Linked DNA regions of Homo sapiens. The protein of the gene in region 7 purifies or fractionates together with the protein of the main gene of each other region. This does not show direct contact. Each region holds a gene or a part of one and is shown on either strand. Other genes may lie near its edges.

Region 1 (3,500 bases), on a different chromosome or scaffold from region 7:
TATAATTCCAGCACTTTTGGGAGGCTGAGGCAGGAGGATTGCTTGACGCCAGGAGTAGAAGACCAAGGTAGACAACATAGCAAAACCCTGTCTCTATTTAAAAAAATAAAAATAAAATAAAATAAGCTTTTTCATAAAGTAATAGGGTTAAATGTTTTAGCAATGATTTTCTTTTCTTTTTTTTGAGACGTAGTTTTGCTCTTTTTGCCCAGGCTGGAGTGCAGTGATGCAATCTCAGCTCACTGCAACCTTGCCTCCCGGGTTCAAGCAATTCTCCTACCTCACCCTCCCAAGTAGCTGGGATTACAGGCACCTGCCACCACGCCGGGCTAATTTTTTGTATTTTTGGTAGAGATGGGGTTTCACCATGTTGGTTAGCTGGTCTTGAACTCCAGATCTCAGGTGATCCACTCACCTCGGCCTCCCAAAGTGGTAGGATTACAGGCATGAGCCACTGCGCCTGGACATTTTTTTTTTTCCTTGAGACAGAGTCTCACTCTTGTTGCCCAGACTGGAGTGCAATGGTGTGATGTTGGCTCATTGCAACCTCTGCCTCCCGGGTTCAAGCGATTCTCCTGCCTCAGCCTCCTGAGTAGCTGGGATTATAGGCACCCACCACCATGCCTGGCTAATTTTTAGTATTTTTAGTAGAGACGGAGTTTCACCACGTTGGCCAGGCTGGTCTTGAACTCCTGACCTCAAGTGATCCACCCACCTTGGCCTCCCAAAGTGTTAGGATTACAAGCATGAGCCACTGTGCCTGGCTACTATTTTCATTTATTTCCTTGCCCAGTACGCAAATTTAGTTGGCTTCTTTTTCCTTTCTTTTCTTTTTTTTTTTTTTTTCTCAGACAGTGTCTCACTTTGTCGCCCAGGCTGGAGTGCAGTGGTGCGAGCTCGGCTCACTGCAACCTCCGCCTCCCAGGTTCAAGTGATTTTCCTGTCTCAGCCTCCTAAGTAGCTGGGACTACAAGCACGCGCCACCACGCCTGGCTAACTTTTGTATTTTTAGTAGAGATGGTGTTTCACCATGTTGCCCAGGCTGGTCCTGACCTCAGGTGATCCACCCGCCTTAGCCTCCTAAAGTGTTCTTTTTCCTTTCTATGTGTTATAGCCATTGGAAAGTTACATTATGTCTTTTCTTTAATTCTGAAGCCTTTAATTTTTAGGACAGACTTGAGGCTCGAAGGTATGTGATGGAGGATAATGGAAGATGATGCCTAGAGATGGGGGTTTAATGTTGTTTGTTCAGCGAATCTGCACAGGAATGAGCTTATTGATTCTTGTCTCTTAGTGTGGGAAGTTCACTTTCACCCATCCAACCCAGAACATCTTTTTACCTGCTCTGAAGATGGATCCCTCTGGCACTGGGATGCTTCCACAGATGTACCTGAAAAGTCGTCACTCTTTCACCAAGGTAAAACTTTTTAATGAATACTGTTATGTGTACTTTTTTTTTTTTTTTTTAAGACAGAGTCTCACTCTATCACCCAGGCTGGAATGCAGTGGCACGATCTCAGCTCACTGCAACCTCCGCCTCCTGGGTTCAAGCGATTCTCGTGCCTCAGCCTCCCGAGTAGCCAGGACTACTAGTCATGCACCACCGTGCCCGGCTAATTTTTTTGTATTTTTAGTGGAGATGGGGTTTCACCATGTTGGCCAGGCTGGTCTCGAACTCCTGACCTCAAATGATCCGCCTGCCTCAGCCTCCCAAAGTGCTGAGATTACAGGAGTGAGCCACCACACCTGGCCTTTTTTTTGAGACAGAGTCTTACTCAGTCACCCAGAATGGAGTGTAGTGGTGCAGTCTCAGCTCACTGCAACCTCTGCCTCTCAGGTTCAAGCTTTTCTTGTGCCTTAGCTTCCCTAGTAGCTGGGATTACAGGTGTGTGCCACCACAACTGGCTAATTTTTTTGTATTTTTAGTAGAGATGGGGTTTTGCTATGTTGGCCAGGCTGGTCTCAAACTCCTGGCCTCAAGTGATCTGACCACCTCAGCCTCCCCAAAGTGCTGGGATTACAGGCATGAGCCACTGTGCCCAGCCTGTTATGTGTAATTTTATCATACTTTTATTTTGTTTTTTTTTTGTTTGAGACAGCGTCTCACTCTGACATGCAGGCTGGACTGCAGTGGCATGATCACAGCTCGCTACATCCTCGCCCTCCTGGGCTTAAGTGGTCCTCCTGCCCCAGCCTCCCAAATAGCTAAGACCAGAGATGCTTGCAACCACAACCAGCTAATTTTTTTTTTTTAATTTTTTTGTAGAGATGAGCTCTCACTATGCTGCCCAGGCTGCTCTCAAACTCCTGAGCTCAAGCAATCTTCCTGCCTGGGCCTCCCGAGGTATTGCAATTATAAGCATGAGCTGGCTGTACCCAGCCATTTTATACTTTTAAATACCAAATTAGACATCCTCGTATTTTTTACTTAATGGCAAAACATTTTTATTCTCTTGCCTCAGAGTAAATTTGAGTATCACAGGGCTTGAAATCTGACTGTCAAGTTACTTACTACTGTATGGCTGATGGCTAGAAATGCTGTAAGCTGGCTCACTTGAGACAGCCAAGGTTCTCCTTTGTGAGTGCCATTAACCTGGACCCTCATGCCATAGCATAGACAGTGGCAAATCTTTCATATTGCATTGCCAAGTTTGTGTGAATGGCAAGAAAAAAGTTGATATTTGATGTAACTGAGGGTACTGGTTAAATGGCCTGATCTCAGGCCGGGTGTGGTGGCTCATGCCTGTAATCCCAGCACTTTGGGAGGCCAAGGCAGGTGGATCACCTGAGTTTGGGAGTTCGAGACCAGCCTGACCAACATGGAGAAACCCCGTCTCTACTAAAAATACAAAATTAGCCGGGTGTGGTGGCTCATGCCTGTAATCCTAGCTATTCAGGAGGCTGAGGCAGGAGAATTGCTTTTACCCAGGAGACAGAGGTTTCAGCGAGCCGAGATTGCACCATTGCACTCCAGCCTGGATAGCAAAAGCGAAACTCCGTCTCAAAAAAAAAAAAAAAGGGCGTGCTTTCCTCATTACAGTCAGTTGTAGGTTATGGTCAGCCAAAGACCATGCACTTGTAATCGGGGTTTATGTGTTTTTGCATTTTCCAAGTTTCCTGTTTTTGAGGGTTTGTCTGTGGCTCCAAAGTTCTTTTGCTTATTCATTTATTCAGAAATATTTACTGAATGCCTACCATGTGGTAGGCATTCTTCTAGGTGTTAGGACGTGTAACAGTGAGCAGAACGAAATGTCGAAACGCATAGAGCAAATATTCTAATAGTTAAAAAAATAGATAATGTATCAGTAAGAGTCCAATTAGAATGTCAGAAACTACCTTAGATGTAGAAGGAATTGGTCTCACATGTGTTAGAAGGGCTGGGAAAACAAAAGGTAATAGGAGGGGTGCTGGGAGAACAAATAGGAAGAAAAGGGAAAACCCAGAAATAGTAATTGTTAGTACCCCTGCTACTTGACTGTTGAAAATGCTGTAAAAGTTTG
Region 2 (3,500 bases), on a different chromosome or scaffold from region 7:
CTAATTTTTGTATTTTTTAGTAGAGACGGGGTTTCACCATGTTGGCCAGGCTGATCTTGAACTCCTGGCCTCAAGCCTCCCAAAGTGCTACCTGCCTCGGCCTCCCAAAGTGCTGGGATTACAGGTGTGAGCCACCACACCTGGCCCTCTTACTTGACTCTTAGCAGCATTCCACATGATTACAGGTGTTAGCCACCATGCCTGGCCCTCTTACTTGATCTCTTAGCAGCATTCCACATATGTGACCTTGCCTTCCTTTTTAAACAGTCTCTTCTCATGAATCCTATGATACTACCCTCTCCCAGTTTTCCTCCCACATTCCTGTCCATTTCTTCCCCTTCTCCTTGACCTGACCCCTATATGCTAGATTTCCTCAAACCTTGATCCTGGACCATCTTCTCTCACTGTACACTTTCTCCCAAGGCACATCTTATCTACTCCCAAGGATGTAAGTACCTTTTCAGCGCTGATGATTTCCCAGAGCTACTTTGCTTCTGGTAACTCACGGCATCAGCACAATTTTCTGGATCCTCAACCTCATCTCTGAATAATTCCTTCGCTTTCCTGCCTTACGGTTAAAGTTGGATCCTGGATCTCCCGTGAGGACAGTGACCCCAGAGTTTTCTCTACCATGCCCTTTGGGGTGGGGCCTCAAGGAAAACATACAGATGTCCTTGTTCCCCACTGGCATTCTAGGCCACTGTTCCTCCTCTGCTACCCGAATCACTCAGCTCTGAAGCTCATGGAATCAGATACCACCTGCTACCCATGCTCACTGCAGTTGATTTTAGCTCCTGGCCCACTGTCACTCTCTCCCACACTACTCTCACCATAATTCTTAATGATTTCAGTATCAGGGCCAGGTACAATAGCTCATGCCTATGATCCCAGCATTTTGGGAGGCCAAGACAGGAGGATTTCTTCAGCCCAGGAGTACGAGATCAGCCTGGGCAACACAGCAAAACCCTATCTCTACAAAATAAAAAAATTAGCCAGGCATGGTGATGCCCGCCTGTAATCTCAGCCACTTGGGAGGCTGAGATGGGAGGATCGATTGAGCCTAGGAGTTCGGGCTGCAGTAGGCCATGACTGTGCTATTTTACTCCAGCCTGGGTGACAGAGTGAAACTCTGACTCTAAAAAAAAACAAACAAACAAATGAATAAACAATATCCAATTATCCTAACACTCTACCTTCTCAGTTCCCCAAATTCCTTTCCTCTAGTGATTGCTCTCAACTGCATCTACTAGGTCATTCCCAACTGCACATAGATATATTATTATATTTTCTCTGTTCCTCCCTTGCTCTCTGGTTACCATGTGATTTCTCTGCTTCCCTTATAGCAATACACCTTGGAAGGGCTATTCTATACTCACAATTCCTCTCCTCCCTTTCCCTCTTGAACCCACTCCACTGAGGCTTTTGTACGACTACTGCAGCAATTCCTGACCAGGTCATCAATGACCTCCATGATCCAAAGGCCAATTTTCGTTTCTCATCTTGCCTGGCTTAAATGCAACACTGACAGGTTTTCACTCTCCTCCTCCTTGAAACATTTCCCTTAGCTTCTGGGATGCCACGTTCTTTGTTCAACTCTCACTTCAGTTACTCCTTCTTGGGCTCCTTTGTTGGTTCGTCATTTTTCTAAATGTTGGTGTGCCCCAGGGTTCAGTCCCAGACTGCTCTACTCAAGTGGCTCTCAACTGGGGGCGATTCTTCCTCATTCACCAGGATATTAAGCAATATCTAGAGATATTGTTGGTTATTGTAACTAGGGTAGAAGTGGCGGTATAGATGTGCTATTGCTATGCAGAGGGTAGAAGCCAGGAATGCTGCTTAACACCCTATAGCATACAGGACAGCCTTCCACAATGAAGACTTAGCTGACAATAATAGTGCAGAAGGTGAAAAATCCTAATTTATTCTCACTTTCTAGGTGATCTCATTCAGTAGAACAGCTTTAAGCACGATCTAATGCCAACAATTTCACAATCTGTATCTTTAGCCCAACTTCTCCACTCAACTCCTGACTACTGTCTCAACACTCACTTGGATATCTATCAGGCATCTCAGATTACACCTGTCCAAAACAGAACTCCTGGACTCACTGAACCTGAAGAAAACAAAAGTACCTGCTTCACCTATACGTTTTTCCATCGCAATTAATGACATCTCCCTAACTTCCAATTGCTCAAGCCAAAAATCTAGGGCTCACCTGTGACTCTTTTCTTTCTGTATACTCCCCATCCAATGCAACAGTAATTCTAACAAATTCACCTTGAAAACATATCCACAATCACAACATTTCTCACTGCCTCTGTCACTACCACCCTGATCTAAGCCACCATCATGTGTGAATTGTGGCACCAGCCTCCTAACTGGTCTCCCTGCACCTACCCTTTCCCCCACCACGCTCTATTCTCAAGACAGCAGTCAAAGCAATCCTTTAGAAGCCCAGATCTTAGATCACGTCATTCCTCCACTTTAACCTTCCACAGCTTCTTCTCATCTTACTCAGAGCAAAAGCCAAAGCTTAAAATAACCAACAAAGCCCTGATCTGGCCCTCAACTATCTCTTTCTTATTATTCTACCCTTTGTTCACTCAGCTGCAGACTCCTGGCTCCTTTCCACTCTTTGAACACAACAGGCTCCTGTTTCAGGGTTCTTTGCACTTTTTATTCCTTTTTCTTGGAAGGCTCCACCTGAAATACTCATTCCCCAGATATCCTTTCTTCTGCTCAAATGTCAGCTTACCCCTGGCTCTTGCCCAACCACCCTACATAAAACATTAACTCCCACAGGTATTCCTCTTCCCTCTTATGCTGTTCCCTTTTTCCTATTCCATTAATCAACTGACAAACTGTCAGAGGCATGTGAACCAGAACAACTCCATCTTGAATAGGAGTTGGGTAAAACAAGACTGAAACCTACTGGGATGCATTCCCAGACAGTTAAGGCATTCTAAGTCACAGGATGAGATAGGAGGTCAGCACAAAATACAGGTCATAAAGACCTTGCTGATAAAACAGGTTGCAATAAAGGAGCAAGCCAAAACCCACCAAAACCAAAATGGCGACAAGGGTGACCTCCAGTTGTCCTCACTGCTACACTCCCATCAACGCCATGACAGTTTACAAATGCCATGGCAACATCAGGAAGTTACATCAGGAGTCTAAAAAGTGGGGGCATGAATAATCCACCCCTGTTTAGCATATCATCAAGAAATAACCATAAAAATGGGCAACCAGCAGCCCTCGGAGCTACTCTGTCTATGGAGTAGCCATTCTTTTATTTACATTTTTTTTTGAGATGCAGTTTTGCTCTTGTTGCCCAGGCTGGAGTGCAATGGTGTGATCTCAGCTCACTGCACCCTCCACCTCCTGGGTTCAAGCTATTCTCCTGCCTCAGCCTCCCAAGTAGCTGGGATTATAGGCATGTGCCATCATGCCCAGCTAATTTTGTATTTTTAGTAGAGACACGGTTTCACCATGTTGGTCAG
Region 3 (3,500 bases), on a different chromosome or scaffold from region 7:
AGGAGTTTGAGACCAGCCTGGGCAACATGGTGAAACCCCATCTGTACTTAAAAAAAAATATGAAAAATTAGCTGGGCGTGGCAGCATGCGCCCATTGCCCCAGCTACTCGGGAGGCTGAGGGAGGAGAATTGCTTGAACTCGGGAGGCGGAGGTTGCAGTGAGCCAAGATTGTGCCACTGCACTCCAGCCTGGGCGACAGCGAGACTCTGACTCAAGAAAAAAAGAAAAGAAACAAAACAAAACAGTATGTATTAGAGGCAAGGTAGGTAAACATTTCCTGAGAACTTGGTGCATTCTTTTTGTTTGAAATTGACCGTAAGTATTTGGCACAGTATGGCTCTAGAGAAAGGTTTCTCAGCTTTGGAACTTTGAGACTTTGGGCCAGATAATTATCGTGGGGGCTCTGTTGTATATTGTAGGATATTTAGCAACATTCCTACCTCTACCCATTAGATACCCATAACACATCCTCTGCAGGTTGTAACGATCAGGAATGTCTGAAGAAATTGTCAGAATTGCCCTTGATTGAGACTACTACTTTAGTGAAAATATTTCACATGTATTTATTTATTTATTTATTTTTTGAGACAGAGTTTCGCTCTTGTTGCCCCGGCTGGAGTGCAATGATGTGATCTTGGCTCACCGCAACCTCCGCCTCGTGGGTTCAAGCAATTCTCTTGCCTCAGCCTCCCGAGTAGCTGGATTACAGGTGCGTGCCACCACACCCAGCTAATTTTGTATTTTTAGTAGAGACAGGCTTTCACCATGTTGGCCAGGCTGATCTGGAACTCGTGACCTCAAGCAATCCACCCGCTTTGGCCTCCCAAAGTGCTGGGATTACAGGCGTGAGCCACCATGCCCAGCCATAATTACCACATTGAGGAATTTGTACTTAATTCAGTGTAATGGGAAATACTTGCAGTTTTTTTTAGTAAGGAAAGAAAAATTCTTAAAAATATAGTGGTAGCTGGCCGGGTGTGGTGGCTCACACCTGTAATCCAGCACTTTGGGAGGCTGAAGCGGGTGGATCACAAGGTTAGGAGTTTGAGACCATCCTGGCTAATATGGTGAAACCCTGAATCTACTAAAAATAGAAAAATTAGTTGGGCACAGTGACACGCACCTGTAGTCCCAGCTACTGGGAGGCTGAGGCAGAGAATCGCTTGAACCCAGGAGGCAGAGGTTGCAGTGAGCGCAGATTGCACCACTGTGCTTCATCCTGGGTGACAGAGCAAGACTCCATATCATAAAAAGAAGACCTCTAAATGTACCAGTCTTTGCATTCTGACATATATTATGTTGTTTTGTTTGAAGTATGTGAAGAAAATCTAGCCTCATACAGATACATAGTTGGAAAAGAGAGGAGTATTTTAATGGCCTTTTCAGATAATTCTAACTGCTCTTTGACACTACAGTCAAACCTTTTTATTTGTTTGTTTTTTTGAGACGGAGTCGTGCTCTGTCGCCCAAGTCGGAGTGCAGTGGCGCTATCTCAGCGTACTCCAACCTCCGCCTCCCAGGTTCAAGCAATTCTCCTGCCTCAGCCTCCTGAGTTGCTGGGACTACAGGTGCACATCACCACGCTGGGCTAATTTTTTGTATTTTTAGTAGAGACGGGGTTTCGCCATGTTGGGTTTGAACTCCTGGCCTCAAGTGATCCGCCTGCCTTGGCCTCCCAAAGTGCTGGGATTTCAGACGTGAGCCACCGTGCCCGGCCTCAAACCTTTTTAAAGGTTCATTACAGTATGGAATCTGAAACTGTGTCATTGAACTTTTGTATTCTGTTGTATTAAAAACCATTGGTCTGTGTTGTACTTTGAATAGACCTTTACACTTCTGTGATTTTATAACATGATGCATGTTGATTTTGAAATTATTGATTTACTGAGTTATGCAGATCTTCTTTTTTTGTTGTTTTTTTGTTTGTTTGTTTCTTTGTTTTTGAGACAGAGTCTTGCTTTGTCACCCAGGCTGGAGTGTTGTGGCACAATCTTGGCTCACTGTAACCTCTGCATTCCGGGTTCAGGTGATTCTCATGCCTCAGCCTCCTGAGTAGCTGGGACTACAGGTGTGTACCACCACATCTGGCTAATTTTTGTATTTTTTGTAGAGACGGGGTTTCAACATGTTGACCATGGCTGGTCTGGAACTCCTGACATCAAGTGATCTTCCCGTCTCGGCCTCCTAAAGAGCTGGCATTACAGGCATGAGCCCCATAGGCCTGGCCCAGATATTCCAGATGTTGACAAATTTAATTATACAGTTGTTTCTGTTTCCACCCATCTCATCAGATAAGTCTTTTTAAGAATTGAGAAGCTTATGACCTGATAGTGGTGAATACATGTTTTTTTTTTTTTTTTTTTTTTTTTTTTTTTGAGATGGAGTTTCACTCTGTCACCTGGGCTGGAGTGCAGTGGCACGATCTCGGCTTATTGCAAGCTCCACTTCCCGGGTTCACGCCATTCTCCTGCCTCATCCTCCCGAGTAGCTGGGAATACAGGGGCGTGCCACCATGCCCGGCTAATTTTTTGTATTTTTAGTAGAGATGGGGTTTCACCGTGTTAGCCAGGAAGGTCTCGATCTCCTGACCTCGTGATCCGCTCACCTCCGCCTCCCAAAGTCCTGGGATTACAGGCATGAGCCGCTGCGCCCAGCCGAATGCATGTTTTTGTAGTTGTAATTTTTGTATCAAAATTTTTTTTTTTTTTTTTTTAGATGTAGTCTCACTCTGTCGCCTAGGCTGGAGTGCAGTGTCGTGATCTCGGCTCACTGTAACCTCGCCTCCTGGGTTCAAGCAATTCTCCTGCCTCAGCCTCCTGAGTAGCTGGGATTACAGGCAGGTGCCACCACACATGGCTAATTTTTGTATTTTTAGCAGAGACAGGGTTTCATCATGTTGGTCAGGCTGGTCTTCAACTCCTGACCTCGTGATCTGTCTGCCTCGGTCTCCCGAAATGCTGGGATTATAGGCATGAGCCACCATGCCCAGCCTTTCTTTTTTTTTTTTTTTTTTTTTTTTTGAGACGAGGTCTCGGTCTTTCCCCCAGGCTGGAGTACAATGGTGGGATCTCAACTCACTGCAACCTCCGCCTTCTGGGTTCCACTGATTCTCCTGTCTCCGCCTCCCAAGTAGCTGGGATTACAGGCGTCCACCACCATGCCTGGCTAATTTTTTGTATTTTTAGTAGAGATGAGGTTTCACCATGTTGGCCAGGCTGGTTTTGAACTGCTGACTTCAAGTGATCCACCTGCCTCGGCCTCCCAAACTGCTAGGATTACAGGTGTGAGCCACCATGCCCAGCCAGTACCAAATCTTAATAACCATAGTTTGTCAATCATTCTTTGAAATTAAAATGGTGGGCGGGGCGCAGTGGCTCACGCCTGTAATCCCAGCACTTTGGGAGGCTGAGGGGGGCGGATCACAAGGTCAGGAGATCGAGACCATCCTGGCTAACACGGTGAAAACCCGTCTCTACTAAAAATACAAAAAATTAGCTGG
Region 4 (3,500 bases), on a different chromosome or scaffold from region 7:
TAATCAAGTATTTAAAATAACCTGATGAGCAACAAGCCAAAGCTGAGATTTTTTTCTATTAAAGAAGCTCCTTTAACATACTACTATAAGTAATCCTTTACATAAGACTTTAAATTTAAAAGGTCTGGGCTGACAAAGACACATTCTTAAAAAAGAAAACCTAATAGAACTTCTTTTACGAAGGGAGAAGTTCACCAAGGAATAACATAAAAGATTATTAGAAGTTATAGAAACCTCTGCCCCCCCATCCCAAATTACCTCAGTAGTGCCAGTATCTAGGGCTGGGGCCAGGTCATGATGACTAAATTCACCATTATCTTTCTTTCGAATATTCTCAACTACAGTTTTTGTTATTGTTGCAACATCCAAATCTAAATAATTTTTTGAAGCGACAAAAAACAAAGATTAATCATTGATACTAATATTCTCTAAATAGTCATAATGATTCAGTAAATTTGGAACAGTAATTCCTTAAAAATAAAATATGTAAAATATGAAAGATATTTATATAAAAGAAAATGCCAGAATTAAAAGATATTTTACATATGAGTTACAGCATAAGTAACTTTAGTCCTAAAACAGAAATTCCCTGAAAATTTTATTCCTCTTTTCCCCTCAACAGAAATAAGATTTAAAACTATAAGGACAAATGTTACTACAGCCAAAATGAACATTTGCCTAGAAAGGCCAAAAGACAAAGTTTTCAACCATTTTTACCTGCTTCTTTAGCCAACTCCAGGCAATGGTGGCGCTGTTCAAATTCTGTAACACTTTCCAAAAATAATGCATACTGGGCAACAGCTAGGTCTTGAGGCAAATGACAGGTATAAAATGCTATAAGATTTGTATGTTTCTCTCTTATTAAAAGCTAAAAAATAGAAAAAGATCAAAGTATGTCAATAATAAAATTAAAAGTATACTTCAAAATTTCAAATGTATTCAGGAGAGGTTCATACAGATGTGGATTTGTGTTGCTAAACAGAATAATTTTATTTTATATTTATTTGTTTGAGACAGGGTCTCACTCTGTCACCCAGGTTAGGGTACAGTGGCATGATCATGGCTCACTGCAACCTGTCTCCTGGGCTCAGGTGATCCTCCCACCTCAACCTCCCGGGTAGGTGGGACTACAGGCACATGCCACTATGCCCTGCTAATTTTTTGTATTTTTTTTTAGTAGAGATGGCTTTTCACTATGCTGCCCAGGCTGGTCTCAAACTCCTGGGCTCAAGTGATCTGCCCACCTTGGCCTCCTAAAGTGCTGGGATTACAGGCATGGGCCCCTGTGTCCAGCCCAGAATAATTTTAAATTCCAAAAAGTGAGTACAGTTGGCTCTTAAACTGCACAGGTTTGAACCGTGGATTTTTTTCGATAAATATATTGGAAAATTGGCTGGGTATGGTGGCTTGCGCCTGTAATTCCAGTACTTTGGGAGGCTGAGGCAGAAGTATCACTTGAGACCAGGCCTGGTAGCTCTTGCCTATAATCCCAGCACTCTGGGAGGCTGAGGCAGGCGGATCACCTAAGGCCAGGAGTTCAAGACCAGCCTGGCCAACAAGACAAAACCCTGTCTCTACTAAAAATACAAAAATTAGCCAGGCGTGGTGGCGCATGCCTGTAATCTCAGCTACTTGGGAGGCTGAGGCAGGAGAATCACTTGAACTTGGGAGGTGGGTTGCAGTGAGCTGAGATCATTCCACCACACTCCACATTCCGGCCTGGGTGACAGTGAGACTCTCTCAAAAAAAAAAAAAAAAAAAAAGGTAGTATCACCCCTGAGGGCAGGAGTTTGAGATTAGCCTGGCCAACATAGTGAGACCCAGTCTCTACAAAAAAATAAAAAATAAGTTTGCTGGCCATGGTGGCACGTGTCTATAGTACCAGCTACTTGGGAGGTTGAGGGGAGAAGACTGTTTGAGCCCAGGAGTCTGAGGTTACAATGGGCTATGATCTAGCCAGTGAACTCTAGCCTGAGTGACAGAACAACATCCTATCTCTAAATAAATAAATACATTAATTTAAATATATATATATTAGAACATTTTTTGGAGATTTGTGACAATTTGAAAAATATTCATGCTTGAACCCAAGAGGCAGAGGGTACAGTACAGTGAGCTGAGATTGCGCCATTGCACTCCAGCCTGGGCGAGAGAGTGAGACTCCGTCTCAAAAAAAAAAAAAAGACTCACAAACAAATTAATAGCCTAGAAATACTGAGTAAATTAAGAAAAAGCTAGGTAGGCCAGTGGCTCACACCTGTAATCCTAGCACTTTGGAAGGCCGAGGCTGCTGGATCACCTGAGGTCAGGAATTTGAGACCAGCCTGGCCAACGTGGTGAAACCCCGTCTCTACTAAAAATACAAAATTAGCCAGGCGTGGTGGTGCACACCTGTAATACCAGCTACTTGGGAGGCTGAGGCCAGAGAATCGCTTGACCCCGGTGAGGCAGAGGCTGCAGTGGCAGTGAGCCAAGATCATGCCACTACACTCCAGCCCGGGCATCAAAGTGAGACTCCATCTCAAAAAAAAAAATAAAAAATAAAAAAAAAGGTATGTCATAAATCCATTATATGTAGATTCTGGTCTATTTTATCACTTACTACTATAAAATATATATGAATCTATTATAAAAAGTTAAAATTTATCAAAACGTACACACATTTACAGACCATACATTGTGGTCTAGAGAAATGTAAACAAGCATACAGATGCAGTATTAAATCATAACTGCATACAACTAACTGTAGTAGATACTATACTACTGTAATAACTTTAGAGCCACTTCCTGCCACTACTGGGGTGAGCTCAAGTGCTGTGAGTATCCATTTAAAATGCCGTGTGATGCTAATCATCTCTGAAGAGCTGTTGGTCTCTTCAGTTGCATACTGCAATAAAAAGTAAGCTTTCCCAGGTCTTGTTTTTTTTAGTGCAATACTATAAACCCTTAATAACACCACAGGAGCCATACAAAGTGCCAGTAGTGATACTGGAAGTTCTCCCAAGAAGCAGAGAAAAGTCATGAGATTACAAGAAAAAGGTGAATTGCTTGATATACTGTAGATTGAGGTCTGTAACTGTGGTTGTCCATTTCAAATAGACAATTCATCTTGTAAACAGACAACATAAACTTACAGTATTAACAGGTACAGTATAGTACTATAAACGTAGTTTCTCTTCCTTATGATTTTTATTATTTATTCTTTTTTTAACTTTTAAAAGTTATTTATTAATTTTTAAACTTAAAAAAAAAAAAAAAGACAGGTCCAGGCCGGGTGTCGTGGTTCACGCCTGTAATCCCAGCTCTTTGGGAGACTGAGGGGGGTGGATCATGAGGTCAGGCGTTAAAGATCAGCCTGGCCAACATAGCAAAACCCCATCTCTACTAAAAATACAGACAATTAGCCAGCACCTTTAATCCCAGCTACTCGGGAGGCTGAGGCAGGAGAACCGCTTGAACCTGGGAGGCGGAGGCTGCAGTAAGCCGAGATGGTGCCACTG
Region 5 (3,500 bases), on a different chromosome or scaffold from region 7:
GGAAAATTCAGAGGCTACCATCAATTATTTAAGAAGTGTATGCTAAATAGTACAAATGAGGAATACTGTTGTAATTATGAGAAAACCGTTGCACAGAAACGTGTCACCTAATGCTGGGAGGGGGCACCTTTGCTATGTCGAAATTAATTAAATGCTAACTAAAATAGTTACGTGTGCCTAATAGGCATCCGAAAGTCAGAACGGGGGAAAAAGGCTGACAGCTCAGACCTCCTTTTCTCAAGGCAGGAAGGAGGCTTTGGTGAGACTGGAAGGAAAGGTTTGGAATCCTAGATGATGTCAATAAACCAGACTCTTTGATCCCAAGTGGAATTCAGGGAATAGACATGAAGACTAGGCCATTTCCCCCTCCCCAAACTTCAAGCTTATCTATAGGAACTTGGAGACTTTGGTGTGGGGGATGGTGGAGAAGAAAAATTCCAGACTGATTCTTCTGACTTCTCTCATTTTAAATACGTAAAATCTTTAAAACGTTTGCTTGCCATTTTATCTTACATGCAATAATAACCCTTAGTCTAGGTTGAGCATCCCTAATTTGAAAATCCTAAATCCTCCAGAATCTAAAACTTCCTTAGTTACCAACACGATGTGACAAGTGGATCATTTCACCCCGACCTCATGTGATGGGCCACGGTCAACATGCAGGTGCACAACAGTTTATTCAGTGTCCCCAAGGGGAAAGTAAAATTACCTTCAGGCTGTGTGTATAAGGTCTATATGAAACATGTGAATTCCCCGTTTAGATTTGGATCCCATCCGCAAGATACCTCAAATATTCCAAAATATGAAACAGTCTGAAATTCAAAAGACTTCTGGACCCAAGCATTTCAGATAAAGGATACTCAATTTGTGTTCAGTGCTTGGTATGAGCCAAAGACTGTGCCGAGCTTGCTTTGTGACTCCCTAGCTGCTTGCCCTCAGCTTTCTGCTGCTTGGAGATACCTCAAATGGGACAGAAGGCTGTCTAATGCAGTCCTGGTTGAGGATGGACTTTGACACACAGCATGGGAATATATTACATCAATCATAAAGTAGAGACTACTGAAATGAGAGGGTCTCCTATTTGATGTGTTGATGAAAGGCTACTTGGGCATCTGTGTAGAGTAGGTCCTACCAACAAGGGACTCAAAACACACAAAGGGAAGAAGGGTTAGGAATGCTGAAGACACATACTGAAATTGGCTCTTCAGTAGTGCCTTTGTTACATGTTCTATATATAGGGGACTTTGCCCTATACAGGGTATGTGTGTTGGGGGTGGGGGCGGCGGGGGGCGGGGTGGGTGTTTAATGTCTGCAGTTTAGCTGGGGCTTTACAGGTGAAACGTACTGTATGTGTTCTCTCGACATTATGAAGATTTTGTTTGTTTTGGTCACTGGTATTTTTATAATGGAGCTCTGCCTTACTACTCTACTTGTTTTACTGCATTTTCAGGATTTTTATTTAGGCCAATATTTGGCTGTCTGTGTTCTGTGATATGTAAGGTATGGGAATAGGAGGGAAGATCTGTGAATAAACGTAGGAAATGCCAGGTGGCATATTGAAGGGCCTTTAAAATCTTAATTTGTTTTGCTGCTGTTACAGGGAGATATATCTTATAGGGTATGTATATATGTATACATACCTACATTCATATATATTAAAAGGTCCACTCCTAATTTAATAAGAAATTACCTTTGAAGGAAGAAAACTCCCCTACCATATTAACATGTTTTGTAGAACACATACTGATTTTAAAATCATCGAATGTGGAAAATTAGGTCTTTACAGTAGAGATTTGATATGGAGTGAATTGATGTGTTCATTTTTTTCTCTTGGAACGAGCACCTGGAAATATTCGTGGTTCTTTGTAGCACAGTGTGGGAAGTGCCATAGAGGCCAGGATCCTAATGAGTATGGTTATAAGTTTAGTGTCTAGAAATAATTTTTGCTTCACCCTAGTCCTTGTTTAAATCCTAAATACTATCAGAGGAATTATATTAAAAAAATTTTAAAGCATATGGGAGACAACACAATCAAAGCCTGTGTCATTTACATGTTATTGGTGGTGTCATGTTGAGATCACTTTTTATTTTTTTAAATAATAATTTTTTTTTTAAGTTTCAGGGTACCACAGGTTCGTTACATAGGTAAACGTGTGCCATGGTGGTTTGCTGCACCGATCAACCCATCACCTAGGTATTAAGCCCTGCATACATTAGCTGTTTTCCCTGGTGTTGGTCCCCACACCTTCCCTGACAGGCCCCAGTGAGTGTTGTGCCCTTCCCGGTGTCCATGGAGAACACTTTTTAAACCTGTAAAATAATGGTTTAACTACAAAGTTGTTTCACATTTTTTCTTTAAAAATCTAAAACTTCCTGGGTTTTAAAAGCATCTCAATACTTCTCTTGAAGGCACTCTTAGATTTGTACTTGATTCATTAGATTGGTTCTCTTGCATTTCCAATTCATGGTTTCCAGAGGGTGAACGCTGTTCTCAGGATGTCTTGCGTTAGAGGAGTTTAGGAAGCATCACCAGGTCTGTTCTCCAGTGTCCCCTTCTGAGTAGGGGCCACATCGCTCATTTCCCAGACTTGTGGACCAGGTTACCTTTCTTTTTTCTTGGGTGACCTCCTGAGGTTAGGGTTCTGTGCAGAATACTTGCTGTTCCAGTTCATCTTATCTTTTCTAACTCTTCATGAGCATTCAGGAGATAGCTTTAACTTGATCCTCTCTTCTAGTCTTTTTTGCTTTGTGGTTTCTCAGTTTTTTCAGGTTAAGCAATTCTCAGCAACTTCAGCTGAGAGCCTTGCAGTCCTGCTAATAGCCTTCAGGGCTTTTGCATTTGACTAACCTGGCCTTTCTTCCAACTTGGCTTGCCCCAAACTGATCTCTTTTTTGCTCCCTAGACCATATCCGACATCTCTATTTCTAGCGTTGTGTCAGAGACACAGATTTCAGACTTGACTTCTTTTGTTTGTCCATATTCAGTGATCTACCAAATCTTACTAGTTCCTCCCCCATAACACTATGTGTTTATACCTTCCTCTTTGGCCCCGCTGTCACCAGCTTCATTCTGCCCTCACGCCTGGCGATGCAGTGCGCTGCTGATTGCTGCTTCATTCAGGACTTGCCTGGCTTCCTTGATTACAGAGGCTCTCCAGGGCAGGTATTGGGCTGCTAGCATTTGATAGAGTGGGCTCTGCTCTTTGTCTTTGCAGCCCTTTGCCACAACCATCCTATCTCATCTTCATAAGCTTAAAAAAATCCTGAAAATCTAGCTGTGTGTATCATGCTAACATGCTTTTTAAAAAAACTGGCTCTGCTGCAATTTTCACTTGAAAGTAGCTGGATGTTGGTTCTGGGTATTTGTCTCTATCTCAGCTCTTCAAACTGGGAATGTGATTTCTAGTAACAACATTTAGCAAAATTTCAACAAAGCAACCAATTTGCGGAAGTTGTGTTAACTTTGAGGTTTTGCCATAATAAATTATAAATGTTGGAAT
Region 6 (3,500 bases), on a different chromosome or scaffold from region 7:
TCATAACATTCTCCACCTCCACCTTCTCTTCAAAGGGCAGCCTGTCCCTCAAGTCCAAGTTTCCTTGTGCATTCATTTTAGCCATGGAAAATTCCTTCGGTTCATCCCCGAGGTGGGTGATGGGAGGGTTCGCCCGTTCCAGGCTTCCTCTTCTGGGAACAGCATATTTAGATTCCTTATGGCTGTCTCCTTCCCTGGCTCGGTTCAGGATGGGGTAGGATGCTTCTGCTTCCTCAAAGGACCCATACTTCTCCATCCCACTGTCTCGACCTGTCAAAGCTCTCTTGCTTTCTGTCTCTCCATATTCTCTCAACATTCCCTTGTTCTCGCTACCCTCTACCAAAGGCTGCCAAGCTTGCGATTTCAGAATGCTTCTAACTGGAGAGTCCGAATTTTCTATTGAAGAAGAAAACTTATAGTCAGTGGCACTTGCATTGTGGTCAAGAGGTGGCTTTGTGCGAAGATCTCCGGCATACATTGGAGCAACCGTGGATGCTACGGTAGACACTGATGTGTTCACGGCAGGTGAGAAAGGAATGAGCTTTCCACTCTGCACCTGGAAGGACACAGTTAAAAATTAAAAAGCTGCTTGAAAAATATCATCTATATAAATCCTGGTTTATGAATTGACAGAAGCTGAAATACTCGATTTGATGCAGTTTCACTGTTTCTCTTAGTGGAAAACCATTCCTGGACATAGTTATATAATACGTCTCATTAAACAAAATCCTCTGGGTGAAACACAGTTGGGCATACTATTTTTTTCTCTCCAAAATGGACTCATTCTAGATATTTCAGCAAGCAAGGTATGAAAACAAAAAAAGAGCAACATACTTGGTAGAATTCTCATTTTTAGGAAGAAAGCTATTACCAAATCACCTACAGGTAGCAGTTTCCTGGTAGAGCACCTTAATTACATCATTGACCTCAGAGGAATACTGCAGTGCTATAATTTAAGAACACACACACACAAACTGCAATCGGACTATAGCACACCCACCTGCTCCACCTCTCCCAGTGTGACTGGCTGAGTTTGATAGCGAGCGTTCATTCTCCTCTGTCTCGTGTCTATTCTGTTCCGGGTAGAAATCGCTTTTGAGACTGGCTGGGACAATTTGTTAAACAAGGCCAACTTTTCGGCCAAGCTTAGAGTGGAGGAATCAGGTTCTCCTTGCTCAGCAAGCTCTTTGCCCTCATTTGTCTGGTCCTTGGCTAAGGCCTTTTGGTGAGCAGAGGCCTGCAATCTGAAAAAAATAAAATGTCAGCAACACATATACCAACAAACAAAAGCACACCGCTAAGTTTCTACGTTAACTTTCTGCCAAGTGTCACATCATTTTGCAAAGGGCTTCTTTTTCCCTAAGCACGTCTAGGACAGAGGCAGGCAGCTGTTCAGCTACTCAACAAGCAGAGTCGGCACAGGACACTTAGCATCATCACTTCTACAAAGAGCAGACTTTGAGCTCCGAATTATTTCTACAAAACGAATTTCCTGTTTAAGACATTGAAGTCAGCTTGGCTATACCTTATCTTAGACAGAGAGGCGGCATTGTTAGTATCGTAATAAGTAGAATGAAAGGGAGTCACAAAGTATTACCTACGGTGTATTTAGACCTTATCTAAAGATATGGTTCAGAAGGTGGTCTTTCATTTTAAATAATTAGGAAACGATATAGTCCTCTGTCAACAACATAACAGAAGGTCTTGATTTTTACTTGCTAAAGACAAATGGCTTAATTTTTAAAGAGTCACTGCTTCAGCTTAGCATTTACTCTCATAGGTTCCTACCAGTTTTCTAAAAGGTACTTAAATCTGCAATTTCCAGTAACCAGAGGAGTAAAGAAAATTTCAGGTGATTATAAATCCCTCCAACTGGCCAGGTCTGGTGGCTCATATCTATGGAAGGCCAAGGCAAGAGGATCACTTGAATTTAGGAGTTGGAGACTAGCCTGGGCAACATCGTGAAACCCCATCTCTACAAAAAATATAAAAATTAGCCAGGCTTGGTGGTGTGCACCTGTGATCCCAGCTACTCAGGAGGCTGAGGTGGGAGGATCGCTTGAGCCTGTGAGGTAGAGGCTGCAGTGTGCAGTGATGAAGCCTGGGCGACAGAGCAAGACTCTGTCTCAAAAATAAATGAATGAATACATAAATCAGTAAATAAATAAATAGCTCCCTCCAACTTCCAGCTAGAAGAGAAGGAAAGCCTGAAGTCTTCACGGTCAATATGAATCTCTAGGGGTTTGTAATGCACTATATCTTCTGTCCCTGACCGATCCAATTGTCAGATCTAGTAAAGGAGATATTCTGCCTTGATTCTAGTGAATCCCCAATGCACAGGCTATCCCAGGCCAAAGAGTAGCCAGCTTCCATATTCCAGGTGTATAATGAGGCCAGTGACAAAAAAGCCACCTGAGCCTCAGAGTCCTCCGTGGACCTCGTGCAGTAACCAGGAGGGCAGGGAAACCCACTTCTCCGGGAGGGCCCTGCTGTGGGTGTACCAGCTTTATCCCGGCACTGCCATTATTTTTAGCTTTTGCGGTTTGGCTCATATAACAGTAAAATGAAGGGATATGACCTGATGTGAGGACATAATTTTAAAGCACCACAATCTGAAACACGACAGTAAAACATCTACGTTTAGACACTACAAATTGTTATTTTCCCAGTCCCAAAATATAATGGCATTGACTCTATAAATTAGAAAGAGGGAGGATTGTTTTCAGTCTGTATTTGTGTCTACAGGTGTTTGAAAAAGACTGGGTCTTATCAGCATTTCAACATTCAGGTTAATGTCTCATTTTTCTTTTTTTTTCTTTCTTTTTTTCTCTTTCTTTTTTTTTTTTTTTTTTGAGACAGAGTCTTGCTCTGTCACCAGGCGGGAGTGCAGTGGCACGATCTTGACTCACTGCAACCTCTGCCTCCCAGGTTCAAGCGATTCTCCTGCCTCAGTCTCCCAAGTAGCTAGGATTACTGGCACATGCCACCATGCCCAGCTAATTTTTGTATTTTTAGTAGAGACAGGGTTTCACCATGTTGGCCAGGACGGTCTCAATCTCCTGACCTCGTGATCCACCTGCCTTGGCCTCTCAAAGTGCTGGGATTACAGGCATGAGCCACCGCGCCTGGCCAATGTCCCATTTTTCTATTAATCTTTATTAAGTGCTATAACAGTATTTAGATGAAGAACAAAATTTTTGAGGGATGACCATTATTATGAAAAACAAACAAAGCAACTGGATACGTGAGTTAGTGTGATCCTAGTTCTAACACATAACATATGCAGAGAGACAAAATGTTTTCCCACGCACGCCAGCATGTGGTTATCAGCACCTTGTGCTATGACAAAACAAAATGCCACGCATTCTGGAACAACTCACGGCATTGACTTGTTTGTCAAACAAACGACAGACATTCAAGACTTTAGGATGCATCTGCTGTTCGGCACCTTTGCACCGGGTGCCGCATGCATCTGTATCTGTCCAGTACCTGGCAGGCTG
Region 7 (3,500 bases):
GCCTTTTGAGTTGCTGGGACTACGGGCATGTACCACCACACTCAGCTAAATTTTTAATTTTTTGTAGAGATGGGGTCTCACTATGTTGCCTAGGCTGGTCTCAGATTCCTCAAGCATTCCTCCCACTTGCACCTCCCAAAATGCTGGGATTACAGGTGTGACACCGTGCCAGACTTGAAATTTTTAATCCCACACCTAAAAATATAATTTTATCCACCATTTTTTAAAAGTCATAACATTATTTATTAAAAATTTAGATGGTAAAACTAAAAATTAAAGCTTAATAAAACTACTGAGTGATTTACAAGGAAGAATATTACTGGTCCCTTTTGTGAGCATCCCATTAATTATATATATTCAGGTTATATTGTTACAATATTTGGTTCTACTGTATACTTTTTTTTTTGAGACTGAGTTTCGCTGTTGTTGCCCAGGCTGGAGTGCAATGGTGCAATCTCGGCTCACTGCAACCTCCGCCTCCTGGGTTCAAGTGATTCTCCTGCCTCAGCCTCCTGAGTAGCTGGGATTACAGGCATGCGCCACTATGCCTGGCTAATTTTGTGTTTTTGTAGAGACGGGGTTTCACTATGTTGGTCAGGCTGATCTGGAACTCCCAACCTCAGGAGATCCGCCCACCTCGGCCTCCCAAAGTGCTGGGATTGCAGGTGTGAGCCACCATGCCTGGCTCTACTATATACTTTCATTCAGTTGTTTCTTTTTAATCTAGTGGTTTTGGTATTAATAATTTGATAATGACCTTTAGCTGTTATTGCTTACTTATGAGTTAATATTTATAAAGCACTTAAAGTAGCTGGCACGTAGTAAACACTATGTAAAGATCCATTAAATAACTTTAAAAAATATAAAACTGATAGTGGCATTTTATTATAGAGATTAAGGTAATCCATTCTCTCATTTCCATTTATGGGATGAGACGTAAACACAAGTAGTTTGCTCTCTAAAACTGTATACTAGAATTTTATATACCCATTATTTGATGCAACTTTAATACCAAAGTGTATTGTCAGTTACCGGTGAATATATATAAATTTAGGTAAGGAAAACCCAACTTGGTCGCACACAGTGGCTCACGCCTGTAATCCTACCACTTTGGGAGGCCGAGGCAGTTGGATCACCTGAGGTCTTGAGTTCGAGACCAGCCTGGCCAACGTGGCGAAACCCCGTCTCCACTAAAAATACAAAAATTAGCCGGGCGTGGTGGCACATGCCTGTAATCCCAGCTGCTCGGGAGGCTGAGGAAGGAGAATTGCTTGAACCTGGGGAGGTGGAGGTTGCAGTGAGCTGAGATCGTACCACTGCACTCCAGTCTGTGCGACAGGAGCGAGACTCCATCTCCAAAAAAAAAAAAAAGAAAAACCCAACTTATCTTTTACAGTTTATAATAGTAGAAGTTCAAATAATTGGTTTGGAATTTCTGTATTTTTAAGGTTAGTACTAAAATTGTTGGTTATAAATTGGGGTACAATATACTTTGTTTTTTAAGTACCTTGTGTATCTAATTTAACTTTAAGTCCTTTATTATTTTGGTTTGATAAGACAACTTTTCTACTTATTTCCCCCCTTAACTGAACCAGCTACCATCTGCCTTTTTCCTGTTGTATACATTAGTCTCTTACGTTAAAATATCATATAAGTTTCATATATATACACATATCAAACTATAGACTTAAAGTACAATTACATCAACATCTTTTAAAACCTTAATTTCTGGCCAGGCGTGGTTGTTCATGCCTATAATCCCAGCACTTTGGGAGGCTCAGGCCATTGGATCCCTTGAGCTCAGGAATTCGAGACCAGCCTGGATAACATGGTGAAATCCTCATCTCTACAAAAATTACAAAAAGTTAGCTGGGCGTGGTGGCGCACACCTATAGTCCTAGCTACTTGGGAGGATCTCTTAAGCCTGGGAGGCAGAGGTTGCAGTGAGCCGAGATCATGCCACTGCACTCCAGCCTGGGTAACAGTGAGACCCTGTCTCAAAACAAAAATATTAATTTCTATAACAAATAAATTTTATTTAGTAATATCATGTTTAATACCCATGTTACATTCATTATTCTTCTACACTTTGGCCTTTAGGAAGAGGCAGTGTGTGTGTTACAGTTAAATAGGAAACAAGTAGGGTTCATATAGTGCTTATGGGGTTTTCTTTGGTGGGGGGTTGCTGGGTTTTTGGGGTTTTTTTTTTTGAGACAGGGTATCACTCTGTCTCCCAGGCTGAAATACATTGGCATGCTCATGGCTCACTGCAGCCTCAACCTCCCAGACTCAAGTGATCCTCCCACCTCAGCTTCCCTAGTAGCTGAGACTACAGGCGTGCGCCACCATGCCTAGCTAAATTTTGTACATTTTGTAGAGATGAGGCTTTGCCATGTTGCCCAGGCTGGTCTCTAACTCCTGGGCTCAAGTGATCCACTTGCTTCAGCCTCCCAAAGTTCTGGGATTAACAGGTGCGAGCCACTGCAGCCAGCCTATATTTTAACTATATGTTTTTTTCTTTTTGGCTAAAATTTTTCAGATTAGTTTACAAGTTACAAGTGTAGGTGATATCTCATGGAGATATCAAAGATGATATGAAGTTAGATTGGGTTTTTAAGAGTAGTTTTTAAAATACGGATAAATACCAGTTGTTGGAGTTTTGTTTAAAGTTCTTTAACTTCTTATTTTTGGGCCAAAATACAGGTATACGCTAGAAATGATTTTTAACACAGGTCATTTATGCCAAACTGCATTTTGCCTTAATTTTTTTTTTTTTTTTTTTTTTTGAGAGGGAGTCTCACTCATTGCCCAAGCTGGAGTGCAATGGCACGATCTCGGCTCACTTACAACCTCCACCTCCCAGGTTCAAGCGATTCTCCTGCCTCAGCCTCCTGAGTAGCTGGGATTACAGGCACCTGCCTGGCTAATTTTTGTATTTTTAGTGGAGACGGGGTTTCACCATGTTGGCCAGGCTGGTCTCGAACTGCTGACCTCAGGTGATCCACCCGCCTTGGCCTCCCAAAGTGCGGGGATTACAGGTGTGAGCCACCGTGCTTGGCCAAAATTTTTATTAATTTTTCTATTGCCTGGACTCTGTGAACCTATCCATTTTGCCTTTTAAAAATACTTAGGTGTAAATATAGATATTCATTAACTCAGCATTGTTTTAATCTATATTTCCAAAGGCAATTTAAAAGATCAGAAAATAAGACCAAATTAATATAAAAATGCATACTTTAGGCTGGGCAAAGTGGCTCACGTCTGTAATCCCAGCACTTTGGGAGGCCAAGGTGGGCGGATCACCTGAGGTTAGGAGTTCAGGACCAACCTGGCCATCATGGCGAAACCCTGTCTCTACTAAAAATACAAAAATTAGCTGGGCATGGAGGCATGTGCCTGTAATCCCAGCTACTCGGGAGGCTGAGACAGAAGAATTGCTTGAACCTTGGAGGGGGAGGTTGCATATCTGAGTGGTGAAATTGTGATTCTTTTTTTCTCTT

What was found.
Region 1: the proteins of SPAST (region 7) and NUP43 purify together in Homo sapiens (affinity purification with mass spectrometry; 4 studies listed by BioGRID and IntAct, with this or other methods). This does not show direct contact.
Region 2: the proteins of SPAST (region 7) and NUP160 purify together in Homo sapiens (affinity purification with mass spectrometry; 3 studies listed by BioGRID and IntAct, with this or other methods). This does not show direct contact.
Region 3: the proteins of SPAST (region 7) and NUP98 purify together in Homo sapiens (affinity purification with mass spectrometry; 4 studies listed by BioGRID and IntAct, with this or other methods). This does not show direct contact.
Region 4: the proteins of SPAST (region 7) and NUP107 purify together in Homo sapiens (affinity purification with mass spectrometry; 4 studies listed by BioGRID and IntAct, with this or other methods). This does not show direct contact.
Region 5: the proteins of SPAST (region 7) and CUL1 purify together in Homo sapiens (affinity purification with western blotting; one study listed by BioGRID and IntAct). This does not show direct contact.
Region 6: the proteins of SPAST (region 7) and SVIL purify together in Homo sapiens (affinity purification with mass spectrometry; one large-scale study listed by BioGRID and IntAct). This does not show direct contact.

What each region holds. Positions count from the first base shown.
Region 1 is NC_000006.12:149,729,530-149,733,029, reverse strand, and holds part of NUP43 (nucleoporin Nup43), read left to right. Parts: intron 1-1,294; coding exon 1,295-1,417; intron 1,418-2,266; coding exon of another isoform or gene 2,267-2,397; exon of another isoform or gene 2,398-3,500. UniProt on the Homo sapiens protein: Component of the Nup107-160 subcomplex of the nuclear pore complex (NPC). The Nup107-160 subcomplex is required for the assembly of a functional NPC.
Region 2 is NC_000011.10:47,841,851-47,845,350, forward strand, and holds part of NUP160 (nuclear pore complex protein Nup160), read right to left. Parts: intron 1-3,500. UniProt on the Homo sapiens protein: Functions as a component of the nuclear pore complex (NPC). Involved in poly(A)+ RNA transport.
Region 3 is NC_000011.10:3,791,055-3,794,554, reverse strand, and holds part of NUP98 (nuclear pore complex protein Nup98-Nup96 isoform 1 precursor), read left to right. Parts: intron 1-3,500. UniProt on the Homo sapiens protein: Plays a role in the nuclear pore complex (NPC) assembly and/or maintenance. NUP98 and NUP96 are involved in the bidirectional transport across the NPC. May anchor NUP153 and TPR to the NPC.
Region 4 is NC_000012.12:68,728,478-68,731,977, reverse strand, and holds part of NUP107 (nuclear pore complex protein Nup107), read right to left. Parts: intron 869-3,500; coding exon 718-868; intron 372-717; coding exon 259-371; intron 1-258. UniProt on the Homo sapiens protein: Plays a role in the nuclear pore complex (NPC) assembly and/or maintenance. Required for the assembly of peripheral proteins into the NPC. May anchor NUP62 to the NPC. Involved in nephrogenesis.
Region 5 is NC_000007.14:148,705,403-148,708,902, forward strand, and holds part of CUL1 (cullin-1), read left to right. Parts: intron 1-3,500. UniProt on the Homo sapiens protein: Core component of multiple cullin-RING-based SCF (SKP1-CUL1-F-box protein) E3 ubiquitin-protein ligase complexes, which mediate the ubiquitination of proteins involved in cell cycle progression, signal transduction and transcription.
Region 6 is NC_000010.11:29,523,472-29,526,971, forward strand, and holds part of SVIL (supervillin), read right to left. Parts: coding exon 3,490-3,500; intron 1,245-3,489; coding exon 1,001-1,244; intron 557-1,000; coding exon 1-556.
Region 7 is NC_000002.12:32,150,556-32,154,055, forward strand, and holds part of SPAST (spastin), read left to right. Parts: intron 1-3,500. UniProt on the Homo sapiens protein: ATP-dependent microtubule severing protein that specifically recognizes and cuts microtubules that are polyglutamylated.